Linked DNA regions of Homo sapiens. The protein of the gene in region 2 interacts with the protein of the main gene of each other region in a pairwise test. Each region holds a gene or a part of one and is shown on either strand. Other genes may lie near its edges. The genes, in order: KCNK5 and TSPAN33.

Region 1 (10,568 bases), on a different chromosome or scaffold from region 2:
GTGCCCATCACTGTCTTCACATGTTGGGGAGGTGGGCTCTGGCCCCACTGCCCCACAGTAGTGGGGCAGAAGGCAGAGAGTGAACGGAGCTGAGCGGCTCTGATGACTTGCTTCCTGCCCGGCCTCCAGTCACCCGCAGTGGATGCCCCTTCCTGCTTTTGCTCACCTCAGTGTCCCCTTCTCCACCTCTGCTTGGGGACATGGCCCTTGACATCATGGCCTTGGATGAGGTCACCGAAAAAGGCCCAATTGAGTTGCAGGGCAGGAGGGCAGACACTAGATCTCCCAATCCTTGGGACCCTGCTCTTTAACCACTGGCTCTGAAGCCAACAACAGATTCCAGGTATATAAAAACAGCAGTTTGTTTAAAAAATAAAACAAAAAATAACAAAAACATTCAGGACACAGTGGGCCAGCCCCAGGGTGAACATCATGGAGAACCCAAGAACTCTAGTAGCAGCAAGTTCTGCCCACCCCTCACCAGAGAGTCCACCAACAGTTTCACATTATCTTTTGCTCCCCAGCCCAAATCCTTTCCTTTCTTAAACACACACGAGTGCACAGGTGTGCGTGTGCACACACGCACTGTGCACACACACGTGCACATCAAACACTAGCTAGAGAAAGGAGCTTGATTCACATATCTGACCATCACCCATTTGTGGGCCAAGAGCAATTTGGCCTCACCCTGCCTGGCCCAAGGGGGCTGGTGGGAGGGGAAGGCGGGCAGTGAGGTCCTTGTTCAGGGCACAGGGAAGGAGAAGACAGCAGGATTGGGAGTGCAGGTCCTGGGGCCAGCGGGCAGGGTGTGCAGTTCTCAGGCGGGCAGGAGGGGTAAGGGCAGAACCAGCCAGAGCTGAGCCTCACTCTTGCAGCTCCCTGGCCACCAGCCCTAGCAGTCCCGGCTTCCAGTAACCCATGCTCTGCTACTCTCCCTCCTACCACTTGGGGGCCCACAGAAAGCCTTGCGTCTGCCACTGCTTGACCTGAGACAGGGAACACAGCTCTGGGCTGGGCCTGAGTAGACCAACAAGGAGGATGAGGACCCCAGGCCCCAGGCCCACATAGGACTTGTTTCCAGGCCCTGTGAGTCAGGACTGTTTGAGACCCTGCCCTCATCTCCTCACTCCCACCTCCAGCAGCCTCCACCCCACTACGGTTTGTAGTAGGTGCCCGACCTGACCGGCAGGCCCACAGCTGGGATGCGGGCGGGCCCTGCTCCTGCTGTGGTACGGAAACACCTGACCCCACGCACAGCGGTACCTCCCCAGACACTTCAGAGCTCCCTCTCCAAATGCCGAGCTCAGTAATACCGGTAAACTTAAACAGCTGAGGCCCCAGACCTCAGAGAACCGTGTGATACTCCACCAAATGGTGAGACAAAGACCCTGCAGGCAAGGCCTCCTCAGGGTCAGTCCTGCCCACCTGTCCCGCCAGCCAGCATGTCTTTGCATTGTGAGATACACCAGCCAAGCTCAGGACAGATGCCCCCACAGCCAGGGTATGGTTCAGCTGGAGAACAGAGGCCCTGTCCCGGGCATACATCTAGCTGAGGATGATGGAAGGTTAGGAAGGCCCCTGGCCCCCCACTCCCAGTTCCGAGGCTGCCCCCCCACCAGGGGCCAGGCGTCCCGGTCATCTCGGGACACCCTAGGGTGAGGGGGGAAGAGGCCATCAAAGGTGGGGTGGGGAGCCGGCCCTGCCTCATGTGCCCTTGGGGCTGTTAGCCTTGTTGTACTCATTCATCAGCTGTTCGTAAGGCACAGAGAGCTCAGACTCAGTGCTGGTGAAGGTGGACTCGGAGGAGGAGGGGAACTCGCCCATGTTCAGGGGCGCCTTGGCTTCAGCCCCCTGCTGGGGGCTCTCCTCCCCTGCCAAGTTGTCCTCTAGCGAGGACTTGGAGGTCTCCTCGTCTGAGAGGCCAGCCTCCGTGTTCACGAAGGTGATGCTGGCGTCCTGGAAGATGAGTGGGTGGTAGTCCTGGGCGTCCCATGGCTCGCATTCCTCGCTGATGCGGTCCAGCTGGTTCATGAACACCTCGGGGGCAGGGGAGCTGTCTTCAGGGGCCCGTGCCACAGCCTCCTCATCTGGGGACCTTGATACGTGGCCTTTGCTCCTCAGTGTCTGTGACACCTCTTCCAAGGTGGGCACCCGGTTCTTGGAGTAGACTACCAGGGGCACCAGGGAAGGGGGCAGTGCTGGGAGCCCACCGCCTTGAGGCCCCAGCCCTGGGCCCGGGCCCGTCTCCCCACCCCCGCTTGTCTTCATGGCCTTCTTCCCGATCTGCTTGATGAGGTCGTTGTAGGTCTCTTCCTTCTTGGAAAGAAAGCTGAAGATGTTGACGTCCTTGGAGGCTGTGCTCCCCTTCACCTGCAGGGCCTTCCGGGAGTGTGGGGAGCTCTCAAAGGACTCCTTCCGTCGCCGCCGCCGCTTCTTAATGGCTTTGTGGACTTCCACAAACATGCTCACCTTCCAGTTGACAAAAAGGGACAGCCAGGCCAGCCCCAAGTAGATCCAGAGCTCCACGAAGTAGCGGTACAGGGCGTGGTAGTTGGCGCTGGGGTTCACACCTGAGCGGACAGGCAGTCCAGAGGTCAGGAAGAGTTAGCAGGGCCCGGGAAATGTGCAATGGCCAATGCTGTGTGATCTGAGCAGGGGTCAGGCCAGAGCACAGGACGGGGGTGCAGTGGGATAGAAAGGGGCCTGTTCTAGACCCTGGACTATCCCATCTTCCTCAAGGGCTTGGGCCTGCCATCATTCATGACCCCATCCCAGTCTCCAGCCTGTCTCTGAGTCTCGGTTTCCTCAACTAGAAACGTCAAGACAGGCCAGGCATGGTGGCTCACGTCTGCAATCCCAGCACTTTGGGAGGTCAAGGCAGGTGGATCACTTGAGGTCAGGAGTTCGAAACCAGTCTGACCAACATGGTAAAACCCCAGCTCCACTAACAATACAAAAATTAGCCAGGTATGGTGGCGGGCCAGCTACTCAGGAGGCTGAAGCAGGAGAACTGCTTGAACCCGGGAGGCAGAGGTTGCAGTGAGCCAAGATCACACCACTGCCACTCTAGCCTGGGCAGCAGACAGAGACTCCGTCTCAAAAAAAAAAAAAAAAAAAAAAAAAGTCAAGACAGTGACTCTTTGAAGGAAGCTAAAGGGGCTTTGGGGGACTGGCAATGTAACCGACACACAGGTCAAGAAACAGTTCATGAGTATTTGCCTTTCTGTTAATTCTTCTACCATCCCCAGCTGTTCTGCGTATATGATACAGTTCACTTAAAAACGGAATGGATGGATATTACACAAGGGAGCCCCCAGCACCCTCCAAGCTGGGGCTAGACTCACACTGGTGGATTACAAACAAGGCTGGTGGTTAGGTTGAGATGACCCAGGAAGCACCCACCGTGGCAAGAAACGCTGAACCATTTTTATTTTCATTGAAGGTCTGGTCTGCCTCCCTGACTTCCTCAGATCAGCTCTCCCTTGACCTGGAGGAGGGCTCTGTCTGCTCCACATCCCCCTCCTGCTGCAGGGAGCCTTCTTGGCTTACCCCCTACAGCTCTGAAGGTTCCCCCTACACTCCAGGATTATTTGAAATGTCGTTGACGACTACATGTACAGGCATGTTGACCTGTATTCCATTTGCCCCCTCGACTAGATACAAGAGCAACTTACAGAAGGGACCTGGAGGAAGGGGGCTACCTCTCTCATCAGACTAGAGGTTCCTCCAGGTGCTGTAGCCCGGTCAGTTCTCCTCCCACGACCGGGCTCAGATAGCAGGTGCCCTGAGTGGTCCTGTTAATCCTGCTCAAGGCTCTCAATCACAAGCAGAGTTTCATGATGACAGTAATGAGGGCACACACTGATATAGCCAGGCCCTACCCTTAACACTCATGAATAGTAATTATTATTTTTACTAATTTTACAGAAGAGAAAGCTGAGGCAGGGTTTGGTGTCTTGCTGGTGCTGAGAAAGTATGGCTAAGTGTACATCTGTATTTCCCTAATACCAGAGGCACCTCCTTAGCCTGCTCTGGGCCTCAAGGGCTGGACAATGGCAGGGTTGTGCCTTGTCCACATGTACTGCCCAGGACAGCAGGCCCGGACTTGGCAGGGTCAGGGGAGTGTTTGTGCCTCTCTTTCCTGTTCCTCCCCCAACTCAGCCAACTGCTCCCAGATGCCACATACATCAAGCACAAGGCTAGTGGCCTCCCACTGCCCTCTGGGCAAAAGGGAGGGGGTACAGAACAGAGGCCTCTGGAGCAGAAGTTGAGGTCACTGGGGTGGTGGGTCAACAGGGTCAAACAGGGTGTCAAGAAGATTAAGAACCAAGATGCTGTGCAGGCCACAAACACAAGTACATGTGTGGCTGGGGCCAGCTGGTAACAGGCCTTCAGACAAAGGGGCCAAAGAACCTCATCACTTCCCTGGATTAAGCAGGGGAGGAGTAGGAGGGAGTGTCAGGGCTGGGGGCAGGGCAGCTGGGGAGAAGGCCTCCCTTGTCTTTAAGCTGCTACAGCAGGAACAAAGCCCCAGGCCTCTGAGCCATGCCTTCAGGACACCTCCCTCCACTCTTGTGAAAGATGAAAGGCTGCTGAGGGCGTGGAGTGGGTGCTGGTGGGCTCAGGGGCTCCCTGGGTAGCAGGTACCAACCGTGCAGGCAGAAGGCCCTACTTGCAAGTCCCCCATGAAGCCAAGCTCAGGAGTCATGGGAGAACTGAGGGAGAGGAGATCAGAGACTGAGCAGAGAGGAAAGGAGGAGGAAAAAGGCCATGTCTGAGAAAGGGAACCAGAGAGAAAAGAGTTTTTTGTCATTACTCTGGGTCTTAGTTTCCTCTTGCAAATGGCAGAGTGGGTTGAGAATCCCACTGGGTAAGAGAAGTGCCCAGAACATGGAACCCTACCTAGGGCACCCCCAACATAGGTCTGTTGCACTGAAACCAAAGAAGCAGAAAAAGAGGTGGGAGGCAGAGGCAGGGACTCACCGGCCACAAAGTCACCGAAGCCGATGGTGGAGATGGTGATGAAGGAGTAGTAGAGGCCCTCGATGTAGTTCCACCCCTCAGTCACCATGAATACGAAGGGTGGGATCACCAGGTGGACTAGGACGCCCCACACGATGAAGATGACTGTGCACGTGATCTGCGCCTTCCGCTGATGGGGAGCAGGAGGCCAAGTCAGAGAATAGTGGAGACTTGGAAACCCAGCAAAGGCACCCAGAGGGCCAGGGAGGCAGCTAGAGGAGAAGCTAGCTGGGTACCCAGCCTGACCCGGGAGGGCAAGGAGCTCTGAAACTATCCTCTTGCCATCTGTCCTTACACCCTTGGTCCAATTCCTAGAGGCCTCCTGTCCTCCCCTCACCTGTCATGGTTCCCCCATCTCTGCCCAACACCCAGGGTAGGGGACATACCAGACTCACACCTCTCTTGGTAAGGAACTGCCCTAGTCTCTTGGCACGTCCCCCGAAGAACTTGCCCAGGGCACTGATCCACGTCAGGCAGAGCGGCACCCCGAAGAGACCATAGAAAACACAGAAGAGGCGACCGGCGGGGGTCTTGGGAGCCACATTGCCATATCCTGAGGAAGGAGAGAGTGAGGCCAAGAACAGGAGGGGTGGTCAAACCAGTGGGCCTTGCTTCCAACACACACACAGCCCGTTCTCTAAGATAAATTGATATTGATCTATTGTCAGTACTTAAGTAATGATATTTCCCTTGATCATACTCTGATCATGATCATTGATAAAGCAATTATGATGACATGAGCTGTATCTCCTCCATCATACAAGGAGCTCCCTGAAGGCAGGGACTAAGCCTGGTCAACAGGTCTTCCACTAGTCTATATGGTACCACTGTGCAAGTTATAAGACATGCTCTCTGTGTAGATTCCCCAGAAGCACTGTGGTAGATGGTCTCCAAAGATAGCCATCCTCCATTCCCTCCCTTCTTATGCAACTGCTCACATCAAGGTGTCATCTAATCCTCTTCCCTTGGAATCTGGGCTTTAGTGGCTTGACAACAGAAGCAGTCTAGGCAGCGGAAGAGACGCTGGACAGGTGAGGTCTAAGAAGCCTGCTGCTTTTCGCCTTGGTTCCCAAACACATGCGGAGGCCTTGTGTTTTCATCCCCAGCTGAGCTCCCAGCCAACAGCCAGCATCAACTGTCAAATCTGTGATGGGAGGAGCCATCTGGGCCATCAGATGAGTTTGGCTTTCAGAAGACTCCAGCCCAGCCATTGTTCGACTGCCACTGCATTGGGAGCCCAAGCAAGAACCAGCCAGCTGAGCCCAGTCAAGCTGACAGAATGGTGAAAGAGAAGAAGCTGCGTTCTGAGCCAAACTTCTGGACTGGTTGGCTATGCAGCCTGAGAACTGAAACAGACACCCAGCTTGGTAAGTAGTCATGATCTGGGTTTCTGCAATGAGCAGTCTGGTTAATCTCTTGCATGGCTCTGGCCATGAGGCTGTGTCATTGTTTCTGCTCAAAGAGCCCAGGTCAAGACTCAAGGAAACCTTCCCAGGCATGATCAGCTACCAAGGACTTAACAAATCCCTAAGAAAGTATCAAAAGAATAGCCTGCAACTGATCTGATTGTACCCCCAACAGGGCTGAGTGACCAGAGCTGGGTTTCTAGAAAGGTTCTGAGGAGCTAGGGCATGGATGTGGGTGTCCTACAGGTCCCAGAAGACTTACCAATGGTGGTAATGACGGTCGCTGCAAAAATCATTGCATTGGGCCAGTTCCAGTTGTTGAAGGTCTGGTTCCCTGTGATGGCCACACCCTGTCCTGCAGCATCAGATACCACCTAAAATGAGAAACAGTAAAGGTCAGAGCTGAGGCCACACTTAACAGATGCTGATTGACAGAACTGCACTAAACTCCTTGTAAGCATTTTCATTTAGTCATCACAAGAAGAAGGTGGCAGTGTCTCCATGTTACAGATGAAACATTGTATAGAGGATCAGAGAGGTTACCTGATTTACCCAAGGTAAAGATATGAACCCAGGCAATCTGGCTCCAAAGTTCATTCTTTCACTGAGTCAATGCTTCTCCAACTTACTAGCATGCACCAGGATCACCTGGAAATCTTGTTCAACAGACTGCTGGCCCCTACTACTCCGAGTTTCTGATTTAGGAGGTCTAGAAGGAACATTTCTAAACATGTTCCCAGGTGATGCTGTGGACAGGGACCACACTTTGAGAACCACTGCACTAGATTAATTCTGCCTCTCAAAAAAAGCACATGTGAGGCAGACACACACAAGGAGGTCCCCTGTGCCTCACCCAGCCCTCCATGGAGGGTGTTCTACCTGCAGAGACCAGGTCCTTGTTCAGGGTTGGCTGGGGAGGGGCCCCCCATATACCCTTCAGCCTACTGTAGGATACCTGCTCAGGTCAGCTCAGTGCCCTGTTGACTTGTCCTCGGAGGGCATGCAAATCAGCAGGTCCTCCTTTCCCCCAGCCTAGGACTCTAATGTACCCTCTCCCCTGTGGGATCTCACTTCCCTCCCTTCCCTGTAGCCCTTTCTCTCTCTGCCCTGGGCTGAGCAGCTGTCTGGGAAGGGACAGATCAGAGGGTGAGTACATTTCAGGGTGACTCATAACTGTGCTATCAATCCCCAAAGAGCTTCCAGTAACTGTGGATAGCAGGTGAGAGGCCACCTGGGGATGGGATGTCCCCCTGGAGAGTGCGAGGAGCGGTGGGGCAGAGGTGTGGGGAACTTATCTACTCCTACAATACTGACAGCTGCAAACCTGTTTCCATCTGACTAGGCCCCAATTCTGCTATCACCACTGGCTCCAACCTATCTGTGGGGCTTTATCAGCTGGCAGGGCCTGGACCCCAGAAGTCACATAAGAAGGGACTCTAAATCTGGGGCTCAAGTCCTGTCCCCAAGGAGCGCCTGCAGATGGGTAGGCCATCCAGACCAGAAGCTAGGCATTCAGCCAAATTGCCTATAAAAACCAAGACAAGGACTGAGAGAGAAGAGACAGAAGAGTGAGGGATGGAAACAGAGGGAGACAAAAAAAACCTTGTTTCTAACCTACCCAGAGCATGACTGAGGTTTGGTGGGAAAAAAAGGGCATGGGTGGGTTGTTCTGAAGGAAAGTGTAATTTGCAGAAGCAGCAGCCGGCCTGCGTAAATGGATCTGCACACTCTGCAAAGAATTTTCCATGATGGCACGCTTGTCTGTCAGACCATCAAACCACACAGCTCACTGCGCTGCCTCCTCCGGCATTTCACAGCATCTCCGAGGCTACGAAGGCTGTGCAGCATCAAAGTGGAAAGTGGGGACCATCGCATCAAACTCTGGCCAAGGCAGCCCCTGCCCTCAGAGAGCTCTCTGTCTAGCTGGCCAGACCATTTCAATGTGAAATGGCTAAAGGACATTTAGATACTAACAGGCCAACAGGAGAGCTAAAACAAATACTAAGGACCATCCAATGGGTTTCTGAAAACATCAAATCTGTTTGGAGCAAGAGAATGAGGAAGTACCAGGGCCACGTTAATGTTAAACAGATGGCAGAGAAAGCGGAACCACCCAGCTCTCCTTTGGCATCTACCTTTGCTACCTCAGATATCGATCTTGAATGGGACCGGCCTACAAGAAAAGAGTATATAAGAACATACAAGAACATCTTGAAATGATAATTGAATCACTGATCACAGGTGAGGCTGCAGCACCACCTCTGGTCATCCCCATGGAATCATGGGGAACAGGAAAGATGTCAGAAGACAAGCTGTTCCCATTTTTCACAAAAAGGAAAAGAGTGGATTCTAGAAATTCAGAAAACAAACCTGAACTCTTGCAAACTTCAAAATGGGGAGAGGAGAATGTTTGGAACATGCAGAAGAGGAAGTAGTGGGCACTAGAAACTAGCACAGATTCACCCAGAACAAGTCATGCTCAGCTAAGTGCATCTCCTTTTCAAAGGGTTGCAAAGCCTTGAAGTTCTGTGGAATGTAATCCATCTAGATATCAGCAAGGCAGCTAACAGATGGGATTAAAGAAATTCATGTGGACAAGACACAGAAATGTCAGTGGAGCCAGGATTAATTGGGTCCATTCAAAGGCAGACAAACAACCCTAGGAGGTATTGATCATTATCAACCCAGACTGAGTCTCCACCATCATGCTTAAGGCCTGGTTTTCTTCAATATTTTAAACCACAGCACAGTGAGGACAGAGATGGTTTACTAATCCAATGTGCAGTGGATGCAAAATTGGGGATAAGGATGGGATGGGAAGATAGCTAACACATAGCAATGGCAGTATCAAGATTCAAAATCATCTGGCTGGATATAGGGGCCAAAATCAACAACATACAAGTATCCACTTAAATGTTTAAGTCTTATACTTTGGATTGGAAAAGACTGGTAGAGGATTGAAGGGAAAAGTCCCTGGATATTAGCTGACCATGGATCAACAAACAGTAATCCTACTGTCCTGCTGTCACAAGAAAAGTAAATGCAATCTCAGGCTATGTCAACTCCAGGTCTATCCAGGGCTGGGAGGTAACAAGCCCACTGTTGCTTGCAGGGTCAGGCCATATATGGGGCACCTTGTTTCATTCTGGGTGTCAGACTTCACATGATATGCTAACCAACAGGCCAAAGTCCAAGGGGGAGATGGGGTGGCTGTTTTGGATAATGAGTCTACAAAGGGCTACTCCTTGTAGTAATCAATTTCTGATAATGCAAAGTATTTAGACCAGGGTAGCCAGCATCCATCAAGGGTGTTGTGGAAGGTATGTCTGGAACAGGGGTTCTCCACTGGGGTGGTAGTGCCTTTTGGAAGTGTCTGGAAATGCTTTCTAAGGAGGAATGTTGCATGTACCAGGCACTGTTCTAGGCAGTGAGTATACTGCAGTGAACGGACGGAATCCCTGCCCTCCTCTTATGTTTATTCTAATGGGTGATGGGAGATGCTCTGGCATTGAGAAGGCAAGGGGCTAGAGATGCTAAATGCCCTGCAATTCACAGGACAACCACACCCACAAGGCCAAAAATGCTCCCCCTGGGAAATGCTAGTGCCAAAGGTAACCTGTGATTTGGGAATCATTTAGTAAGTGCTAAGGAGACATCAAACAAAAGAACTGGCAAAACAGGGTAACTGAAGAAGGCATTAAGTTTGGGAGTGGGGAGAGGTGGAAGAGCTGGGCTTTCTACCCTTCACCCCACTGATGGTGTGCCCTTTGGGGACCAGCTGGCAGCCTCAGGCCCTGGCTTATCAGGCAGCCACAGCATTATGTGCTTTCCCCATGACTTCTAGTATCCCTCTGTGGTTGCCCAACAAGGGGCGGGCAAAGGAGGCACTGGAGAGAGCCCCTAACTCCCCGGGGCTGCAAGCACTACTCATTCCTTGCAAAGACCCAGTGGTGGCAATTACACCCACTGGGCGGAGAGAGGTTGGTTACCTGGCAGAACTGGGCTAGGTTGTAGACTGTCTGGTTTCAAGTCTGCAAGTTCAAGCCTCCCTGCCTCCATCTGCCTGGGTCTGCCTGCCCCTGGGCTGCCCCACTGCCCCTTGCGGTTGCCTCCTCTGCTGTGGTTCCCAAGCAGCTGGCC
Region 2 (10,568 bases):
TCCAAAGAGCACAGTGTGGAACATGGGGAGAAAGGCTAACTCTACAGCGGAGGAACCTGATAAACACTACTTCATCCAGGCGATCGAGGCCAACATCAACAATGATCATGTTGCTGAATCACTTGTATGATATGATATGATGTGATGTGATGAAAATGGCACTTGACTTCTCTGGTCTTCCTCCCAAAAGCCATAACCCCAGTATTACAATGATGAGTAAAACAGCAGGCAAGTTCCAATAAAGGGACATTCTACAAAATACCTGACCAGCACTTCCCAAAACTGTCAAGGTCATTAAAAACAAGGTAAGTCTAGGAAACTGTCACAGCCAAGAGGAACCTAAGGAGACATGACAACTAAATGTAATGTAGGGCAGGACATGGTGGGCCACGCCTGGAATCCCAGAACTTTGGGAGGTCGAGCGGGGAGGATGGTTTGAGCTCAGGAGTTTGAGACCAGCCTAGGCAACGTAGACCTCATCTCTACAAAAAATAAAAATAAAAATAAAAATAATCTGAGTATGGTGGTGCATGCCTGTAGTCCCAGCTACTTGGGAGGCTAAGGTGGGAGGAGGATCGCTTGACCCCAGGAGGTTGAGGCTGCAGTGAGCCATGATTGTGCCACTGCACTCCAGCCTGGGTGACACAGCAAGACCCTGTCTCAAAAAAAAGAAAGAAAAAAGTAATGTAGTATCTTGAATAGGATTCTGGAACAGAAGGATATTAAATAAAAATGAAAAAAAAAACCAATAAAGTGTAGACCATAATGATAATACTATTAATTACAACAAATGTATCATACTAATGTGTTAATAACAGGGAAAACAGAGTATGGGGTATATAGGAACTCTCAATACTATCTTAAAATGTTTTTAATTGATATATGTAAATTGTATGTATTTATGGGATACATATGATATTTTGATACATGTGTACAATGTTTAATGATCAAATCAGGGTATTTAGAACATCCACCACCTTGAACATTTATCATTTGTGTTAGAAGCCTTTTAAATTTATTTTGAAAAATACAATATATTGTTGTTAACTATAGTCACCCTACTGTGCTGTTGAACACTAGAACTTATTCCTTCTATGTGACCATATGTTTGTACCTATGAACCAGCCTCTTTTCATCCTCCTGCCCCTGGATCCCAGCCTCTGGTAACTCATTCTATTCTCTACCTCTATGAGTTTCACTTTTTTAGCCCTCAAATATGAGTGAGAACATGCAATATTTGTCTTTCTGTGCTCAGCTTATTCACTTAACATAATGACCTCCAATTCTGTCTATGTCACGAATGACAGGATTTCATGCTTTTTTATGGCTGAATAATATCCCATTATGTATATGAACCATATTTTCTGTATCCATTCATTTGTAGATGGACACTTAAGGTTATTCCATTTCTTGGCTATTGTGAATAGTGCTGCAGTAACATGGGAGTGCAGATGTCTCTTCAATATATTCATTTCTTTTTCTTTGGATAAACACTCAGTAGTGGGATTGCTGGATTGTCTAGTAGTTCTATTTTTTGTTTTTTGAGAAACGTCCATCTCTGTACTATCTTCTCAATTTTTCTGTAAAATTGTTCTTGAAAAATAGTCTATTACCTCCTCCCACCCCAATTTGTTAGTTTATACTTTTTATTTTATTTTTTGAGACAGAGTTTCGCTCTTGTTGCCCAGGCTGCAGTGCAATGGCGCGATCTCGGCTTACTGCAACCTCCACCTTCCAGGTTCAAGCGATTCTCCTGCCTCAGCCTCCCAAGTAGCTGGGATTACAGGCATGAGCCACCACACCCGGCTAATTTTGTATTTTTAGTAGAGACAGGGTTTCATCATGTTGGCCAGGCTGGTTTCAAACTCCTGACCTCAGGTGATTCACCCGTCTCAGCCTCCCAAAGTGCTGGGATTACAGGCGTGAGCCATCACACCTGGCCTATACATTTTTTAACATCAGATTTTCATAAACTAGGGTTCACTTGCATACAGTTTTACAAACTGTAATCTGGGTGATTTCCCATCAATCACACCAAAACTTAAGGCAGTGGATCTTTTTTTCTTCCCCCCACCAACAGACAAGGTCTCACTCTTGTGTTGCCCAGGCTGGAGGGCAGTGGTACAATCATAGCTCATTGCAGCCTCAACCTCTTGGGCTCAAGAGATTCTCCTGCCTCAGCCTCCTGAGTACAGGCACATGCCATGACACTCACCTGATTTTTAAATTTTTGGTATAGATGTGATCTTGCTAGGTTGCCCAGGCTGGTCTTAAACTCCTGGCATATGGTGATCCTACCTCATTGGTCTCCCAAAGTGCTGGGATTACAGGCATGAGCCACCATGCTTGGCTAAGATAGTGGATCTTAAAATTGTTCAAGTGACAGAGCACTGGGAAGTCACAGTGCTCTGTTGGTGTACATTATAGATTTTGTCATATTCTTCTTCTTTTTTTTTCTTTGAGGCAGTGTCTTGCTTTGTCACCCAGGATGGAGTACAGTGGCACAATCAAGGGCTCACTATAGCCTTGACCTCCTGGGCTCAAGCAATCCTCCTGCCTCAGCCTCCTGAGTAGCTGGGACTACAGACACATGCCACCAACTGGGCTAATTTTTAAATTTTTTTGTAGAGACAGGGTTTCACCATATTGCCCAGGCTGGTCTTGAACTCCTGGGTTCAAGTGATCCACCCGCCATGGCCTCTGAAAGTGCTGGGATTCCAGACATGAGCCACTGCAACTGATCTTTTTTAAACTTTAATACACTATTACTGTGACCTAATTTACAGTCCATATGTAACTTTCCCCAATTATCCCCAAAATGTCCTTTGTAACCTTTTTTTTGTTTCTTATCCAGGATCCAATCAAGGATCATGCATTTAGAGATTAACTCTCCTTCAGCCTGGAACAGTCTCTTGGCTTTAATTCTTTTCTCTTTAATTTTCTTCCTTTGTTTTTGGTCTTTAAGACACTGACTTTAAAATTTATGGTAAAATACATGTGACACAAAATGTACCATTTTAGACATTTTAAAGTAAACAGTTCAGTGGCCTTTAGTACATTCACATGGCTGTGCAACCATCACCACCATCAGGGTGCAGTGCTTTATCATCACCCCAAATAGAAACCCTGTACCCATTAAACCATCACTCCCCATTCCCATCACCCTGTCCTCCGCCCCCAGCCCCTGGTAACCACAAATCTGCTTTCAGTCTCTATGGATTTGCCTATTCTGGACATTTCCTGTCATTGGAATTACATACTAGGTGACCCTCTGTGTCCGGCTTCTTTCACTTAGCAGAATGTTTTCTTTTTCTTTTTCTTTTTTTTTTTTTTTTTTTTTTTGAGACGGAGTTTCACTCTTGTTGCCCAGGCTGGAGTGCAGTGGCGCAATCTCCGGCTCACTGCAACCTCCACCTCCCGGGTTCAAGCCATTCTCCTCCCTTAGCCTCCCGAGTAGCTGGGGTTACAGGTATGTGCCACCAAACCTGGCTAATTTTGTATTTTTAGTAGAGATGGGGTTTCTCCATGTTGGTCATGGTGGTCTCGAACTCCCAACCTCAGGTGATCCTCCTGCCTTGGCCTCCCCAAGTGCTAGGATTACAGGTGTGAGCCACCCGCGTTCGGTTCACTTAGCAGAATGTTTTCAAGATTCATCTGTGTTGTAGCATGTGTTACAACTTCATTTCCTGTTTGTTTGTTTGTTTGTTTGTTTTTTGAGATGGAGTCTCACTCTGTCACCCAGGCTGGAGTGTAGTGGTGCAATCTCAGCTCACTGCAACTTCTGCCTCTCAGGTTCAAGCGATTCTTGTGCCTCAGCCTCCTGAGTAGCTGGGATTACAGGTGCATGCCACCACAACAAGCTAATTTTTGTAGTTTTAGTAGAGGCGGGATTTCCCTATGTTGGCTGGGCTGGTCTCGAACTCCTGACCTCAAGTGATCTGCCCGCCTCAGCCTCCAAAAGATTACAGGCATGAGCCACCGTGCCCTGCCAACTTCATTTCCTTTTATCGCTGAATAATACTTGGTTGTGTGACTGTAACACAATTGTTTCTCCATGCCTCCATTGGTAGACATTTGTGTTGCTCCCACCTTTTGGCTGCTGTGGATAGTATTGCTATGAACATTCATGTAAAAGGTCTTGTTTGAATACCTGTTTTCAATGTTCTCTATACCTAGGAATTGCTGAATCATATGGTAATTCTATGTTTAATTCTTTAAGGAGCTGCCAAACTGTTTTCCACAGCGGCTGTGCCTTTTTACTTCCCCACTAGCCAAGTGTGAGGGTTCCAGTGTCTTCACATCCTTCCCAACACTTGTTCTGACATTTTTTTGGACACTGACATTTTTCATGTTCCGGCCAATTGTTTTGCAGAATGTCCCTCGATTTGGATTTATTTGTTTGTTTCCTCACAGATTCAGATTACACATATTTGACAGGAATATTACACAGATACTGCTGTGTCCATCTCAGTGTATCATGTGAGGAGGCAAACATATTAATTTCTACTACAGAACTAAGGAACAATTTTACTAAGAGATGTGGCTGCTAGGTGTATGTCTCTGCGTTTCATAAAACAACGCAGGCATACTCTAAATAAATTGTTTCCTAGTTTTCCATAATAGTTGCTACTTGTCCTCTTCTGCTTGCCTTTTGTTAGCACTTGCAGGCAGATAAGCAGTTGCAGGTACTAATGTTCATGGGAGAAAGGAGAAAATGAAGAAAATTTTCTTATCTTGACTTTTTTTCTTGCAAATTGGGAAAAAATAGTCATGATTTGATGTTTAAAAGGAGAAACCCTTATTCTAGCCCACAAGACAGTACTTCAGGGCCATCAGTAATAGGAGAGGAAAGGTTGCAGGGCCTCAACTTGAGGTCCTAAACAAAGGTTGTTCTCCTGGCTCTTATGCCCAAATGCCAATAATTACAGGCAAATTAGCTCCCAGAGTCCATCTCTACTGGATTGCATTTAAGATCAAGGTAGGGCCAGGCATGGTGGCTCATGCCTGTAATCCCACTACTTTGGGAGGCCAAAGTGAGGAAGATCATTTGAGGCCAGGATTTGAAGACCAGTCTGGGCAACACAGTAAGTCCAGTCTCTAAAAAAAAATTAGCTGGGCATGGTGATGCATGCCTGTAGTCCAAGCTACTCAGCAGGGTGGGGTGGGACGATTGCTTGAACCCAAGCAGTCGAGGCTGCAGTGAGCTGTGATCCCATCACTGCACTCCAGCCTGGGTCAAAGAGCAACACCATGTCTAAACAAACAAACAAATAAACAAATAAATACGTAAATAAAAGTTTTAAAAGGCCAAGGTGGTGTGACAAGCCTTGAGAAGCAGAGCTAGGGAAGCCCAGGAGACAACAGTGGAGCTCTGTTCATGGGATATATAGGAAGTATCTCCATAAACTAAAAAATATAAAGCTACCAATAATGATTGTCTCCTGCTTAGCTTTTTTTCTTTTCTCTTTGATTTTCTTCCTTTGTTTTTGGTTTTCCTTTGTTATGGTGAGAATGTGAGCAAAGAGGGTTGAGCAAAGGCTGGCCCTTCCCTAGCCAGTCCCTGTCTGCTTGCCACTCTCTTTCCTCCTCCCTGGAGGAGCGCTCAGCCTCACTCTCCACGCCCACCCCCAGCAGGTGACCTCTAGGAGCATTTACAGGGACAGCAGTGGCAGTACTTTTTGTTGAGTGCTAAGGACCAGGCGCTGGGCTAAACACTGTCTCATTTAATTCTGACCACAAACCCAAGAGGGCATTAGGATCTCCATTTTATAGAGCTGATGTTCAGAGAATTCCAGCAACTTTCCTCAGTTCACATGGCTAGTGAGCGGCTGAAGTGGGAATGGAACCTAGGTCTGGATGTCCCCAAAGCCTTATGAGCTTGGCCACTTGGCTGCCTTCCTATCTCTGCCTCCCAGTACCCCCAGGATTTTGCCTATTCACATCAGCCATCATGGGAGATGGGAAGCAGCTGCTTGTGGTTCCCTTGGGGGAGCAGCTGATAATCTCCAAATGGGCTGGTTTTCAGGCAGGGGAAGGAAGATTGCAGCTGGCGGCGGGGACAGGGTGCCAGCAGGGCCCAGGAGGTGGCTCAGAGGGAAGTCTCTGGAACAGCACTCTGAAAAGGGAAGGCATGGCGTTGCCACAGTGGGGCCACCAGCAGGCGTAGCCTCCAGGGAAAGCCCTAGCCTTGTCTGTCTTCCATAGTCCAAAGTCCAGGCTGCAAGAAGCAGTGGAGCCCCACTGTCTCAGGGCCCGCACCCCCTCCTTAGAATCTCTTTCCCTCCTGTTTTGAAGGTGATGGTGGAGACAGCTGAGGGTAAAGTGGTTCCCTGTGTGGCAATCAAAACCCTGTCCCTGCCCAGAGGGAAGTGGGCAAGGCAGTGGTCTCCACCTCTGGTTTCTCAGTCCTCCCTACCCTTATATCTGGATGAAGCCAAAGAGCTTTCAGCCTGTGGCCCCGGAGTAGGGCCACCTCTCTCCCTGCCCGTGACCTTCACATACTGGTCTTTCTGTGCTCTCCATGGCGCTGCTGTTATGGGTGTCTGAGGTGGCGGCTGTCCATGGGAGGCTGGCTGTCAGCGCTCTCCCTCTGGATTGGGGGACACTGTCCCCCTGGAGTGGAGGAGTCCACAGGGCTCCTTCCTCAACAATGTCCGGGGCCAAGCCTTTGGCATCTTCCTCAGGCCACGGCTGGCTTTGTTCTTCCAAGGTTAAGAAAGAGGAAGGGAGGTCTGCAAGGGCTTGCAGTAAATAACCATTCAAACTCAAAGCCCCGGAGGGACTGGCCCAGCACTAGCCTCCTAAAAAGATCTGAGAGGCACTCTATGTTTTCTTTTTTCTTTTTTTTTGAGACGGAGTTTCACTTTTGTTGCCCAGCGTGGAATGTAATAATCTCGGCTCACTGCAATCTCTGCCTCCCAGGTTCAGGTGATTCTCCTGCCTCAGCCTCCGAAGTAGCTGGGAATACAGGTGTGCACCACCACACCTGGCTAATTTTTGCATTTTTAGTAGAGATGGGGTTTCACCATGTTGGCCAGGCTGATCTCGAACTCCTTACCTCAGGTGATCCACCTGCCCCGGCCTCCCAAAGTGCTGGGATTACAGGCATGAGCCACCGCGCCCAGCCTTCTTTTTTCCTTTTTAAAGGCTGCTTGACGTTTATGGTTTTCTACTTGGTACAGGGCAAACAAAGCTGCTGGGAAGTTAAGAAGTGTGCACGCGACCTGCATAGCAAAGGAGATGGTTCTTGTCTTCATTTCCCATATTTTGTAATTTTCGTTGTTTTTATAAAAAGCATCTGTCTTCAGTTATGGAAGCCAGCCAAGTCTATGGGGAAGACGGCGGGGGTGGAGGAGGGAGGTGGTGGGCTCTGCCTCCTAGTGTATTTGGAAGTATAGGATGAGGGGGTTGGATGGCAGAAAGGGCCCCTGCCACTTAGAAGAGGTTTTTGCCTGGCTTGATGCCTGGTTACTTCCTCATGGTTTTTGAGCCAGACGAAAAGAAATGGTGCTGAGAGTGGCCTGGGTGATTCTGAGTGCCCAAGGACTCCAATACAGTAGTCCTGGATGGGAGAGTGGATTTCTTGAAGAAGATGCCCCACTGGTGGCTTGGCTCAGCCTAGGGAAGACCTGGACAAGGGTGCATATATGTGGCAGTGGAAGTGAGAAAATCCAGATGCTGTAGGCAGTAAGTACGTGTGGCTCTGAGGAGGGGATGGCTGCCATGTTTCTGACCTGGCTTAAGTGGAGGGTTGCCAGGCCGCCAGACCCACCACAGAGGAGAACACAGTTGGGTACCTCATCACCAAGAGTGCTCAAGGACCCCAGGTTGAGCTGCATCTTGACAGGCCAGTGTCCATGAGGAAGGGAGGATGGGCATCAAGCCTCTACCCTGTGGGGTTTGCTCTCTCACTCACCATCCAATAAACATTCAGTAAGCACCCAATTTATGCCAAACACAGCTGGGCACTGGGGATCCAGAAGTGAATAGGGCCGTGCCCACCCTCGAGAGCCCGAAGTCTAGAGGGGGAGACGGAGAAGTAAACACAATTGCAGCACAGGTAAGGGATGTGACAATAGAAGAATACAGAAGGTGCCATGGGAGCCCTGAGGCATGGCTGCTAGGGAAGCCTGGGCTGAGACACAGGGGCTGGAGGTCTGAGCTTCTGGGCTCTGCCTGACTCAAAAGCCAGCCAACTGCTGCCCTGAGTGGGAAAAGGACCAGCGAGGAAGGAGGTGGGCGGCACTGAATATTCCTGACAACACATGGCCAAGCTGAGAAAGCAGGCACCACCCCAATATCTGCACGGAGCTGTCCTGCAGAGGGAGGTGAGGAGAGGCAGCTGCTCTGTAGCCACCCTAACTGATTTAAATGCAACATCTAGGATCTTAGAGCAGCTACTCCAGGCCATGGAATCCCCACAGTCAGTAACCCAGCAACATGATTCTGGGAAGAAAATCAGAACTCCCAGGTCAAAGGGGAAGTGAGATTTGAAACATGAACAGTAGGAACTGGTCCCAGTCCCCCAAAATTCATTAGTTTTCTGAGTCAGACTCCAAATGCCCCAAGAGTCAGGGCTTCTAGAGCAACAGCAGACGTAGCCACCATCACCACCAGCACCACTATTCAGAGCCCAGAGGATGCCGGACACCTTCCTAGTGGGTTCCAGGCACAGACACAATAACCACTGCCATGCGGCAGCTCCAGAAGCCGGCCAGAGCATGCACTCTGCCTGCAAAGGGTGTGGGCTGACCATCATCTCATCCATAGGTGCTTCCTGGGCAGAAGAGCAGAATTTGATTAGGATGGTGGAAGTCTACAAAAAAGAAAGCATGGGAACCAGTCCCTGAAGAGGAGCTAGGAAGAAAGATGGCCCCCTGATCTGGGGAGGCAGCATTTTCTCTCCAGCTGCTCTTGTATGAATATACCTGTGCAGCACTGGGTTTGGGGGAGAAGGGACATTCAATAACACCTGAAAAGTACTGTCCCCTAGGAAGGGCAATCAGGACACAGGGAGATTCATCCTTAGATCCAGCTCTAGGTCTTGAAGAAAGAAAACAGTCCCCAAAATGATTCATTCATCCTTAAATAGTTCACTGAGGCAGAAATTGTTTCTCCTTTAGAGGAGAAAGATTAAGGTCAGAGAGACAGATACATTGGCTTAGGGTCACACAGTAAGTTGGTGCCAAAAAGATGCTGAGCCTCTTGTCTTTCAGTGTGCTATTTCTAGAGCCTCTGATTTTTTATGAGTCTACTGTAGGGCCAAGAAGGGGCTCTATTCTAATTTGGGGTGGTGCTAGCTTGGCCACCCACGTCTTCTGACCTTGAATGAAGCATTTTTACCAAGGTAAATGGGTCTGTGGAGCCAAACTCTCTCCTGGCTGAGATCTCTCAAAGTCGTTTGTCCGATAAAAGGGGGGTAGGGTGGAGGTAGGGGGTAGGGAAGCTCGAGAAAAAAAAAATGACCAGGAACACAAGTGTAACAGATGCACCCAGCTGTTGTCACTGGCGAGCACAGACAAGGGTGAGGTACCAATGGCTCCAAGGGAGACAGTCTCGGCAGATAAAGGAAGTCAGAGTGACGACCTAAAGTCCCTGAAATGCTAGTGCTGGCTCCGAGGATGTCACGTCACTGGCCTGGCACACTCAGTGAGCACAGAGACTTCACTGATACTTGCCCCTAAGTGGGGAGTCTCTTAGTACATCCCCCAGCACTGGTAGAGTGGTAAGGGATTTTCTTGTGTTTTTCCCTAACCTCCAGCTGAAGCAGAACCTAGACTATGGGAACTTGGGTTGACTGGTTAACTACTAATACTGCCCATACCCCAGCTATAGCAGCAGCCATCTGTGCTGAGGACTTCCCCCAGCGGCACTGTGGTTCAGTAGAAAGGTCACCAGACCAAGCCTGCTAACCAGCTGTTGGACCTTGGACAAAACATTTAACATCTCTGTGCTTTAGTTTTCTACATTTTATAGACATAAACACAGATGCTGGACAAGATGTCTTCTAAAATTTTTTTCCAGTTTTACAACTGAGCATTTGATAGGAGCACAAGTTTCATTTTCCCCAGGAGTAGGATGGCTGAGTGCGCTGTCATCACCACCCTATGGGATTTCTCTCATTTGTCCCAACAGGCCAGCACTTATGGGCTTTGTGTCTGCACCTCACCCCACGGGCCCTGTGAAACCTTTCCAGCAAATGGCTTAGATGTCTGTTCTGCTCCCTCCCCTAGGAAACATATTTTAGACTCAATTCTTCCCTCCTGCAAGTCTGAACTTTAGGTCTCCAGCTGAAGTGGGCAAGGATGGTGGGCTCCAGAAGCAGCAGCTCTGGTGTGGTAGGAGCCAGAAGAGGAGGTGAATGGGGGAAGGATGTCCCTATGTTCTCACACCCCAGGACCTCCAGGACTCTCTAGCCAGGAAACAGGGTCGAGCTGGCATTGCATGATCTGGTTCAGCTCAATTCTCAGCTTCAGCAGTCTTTCTGCCACCCCTGATCACACTGGGTTGGATTTGTGGGGGAGGGAGTCAAGGCCTGCAGACATGAACATACATGCTTAGGTCGGTCA

The links.
Region 1: the proteins of TSPAN33 (region 2) and KCNK5 interact in binary tests that used the Homo sapiens proteins (3 or more experiments, as listed by UniProt).

Annotation. Positions count from the first base shown.
Region 1 is NC_000006.12:39,189,186-39,199,753, forward strand, and holds part of KCNK5 (potassium channel subfamily K member 5), read right to left. Parts: intron 6,803-10,568; coding exon 6,691-6,802; intron 5,576-6,690; coding exon 5,409-5,575; intron 5,153-5,408; coding exon 4,984-5,152; intron 2,571-4,983; coding exon 1,705-2,570; 3' UTR 1-1,704. UniProt on the Homo sapiens protein: K(+) channel that conducts voltage-dependent outward rectifying currents upon membrane depolarization. Voltage sensing is coupled to K(+) electrochemical gradient in an 'ion flux gating' mode where outward but not inward ion flow opens the gate.
Region 2 is NC_000007.14:129,145,834-129,156,401, reverse strand, and holds part of TSPAN33 (tetraspanin-33), read right to left. Parts: intron 1-10,568. UniProt on the Homo sapiens protein: Part of TspanC8 subgroup, composed of 6 members that interact with the transmembrane metalloprotease ADAM10.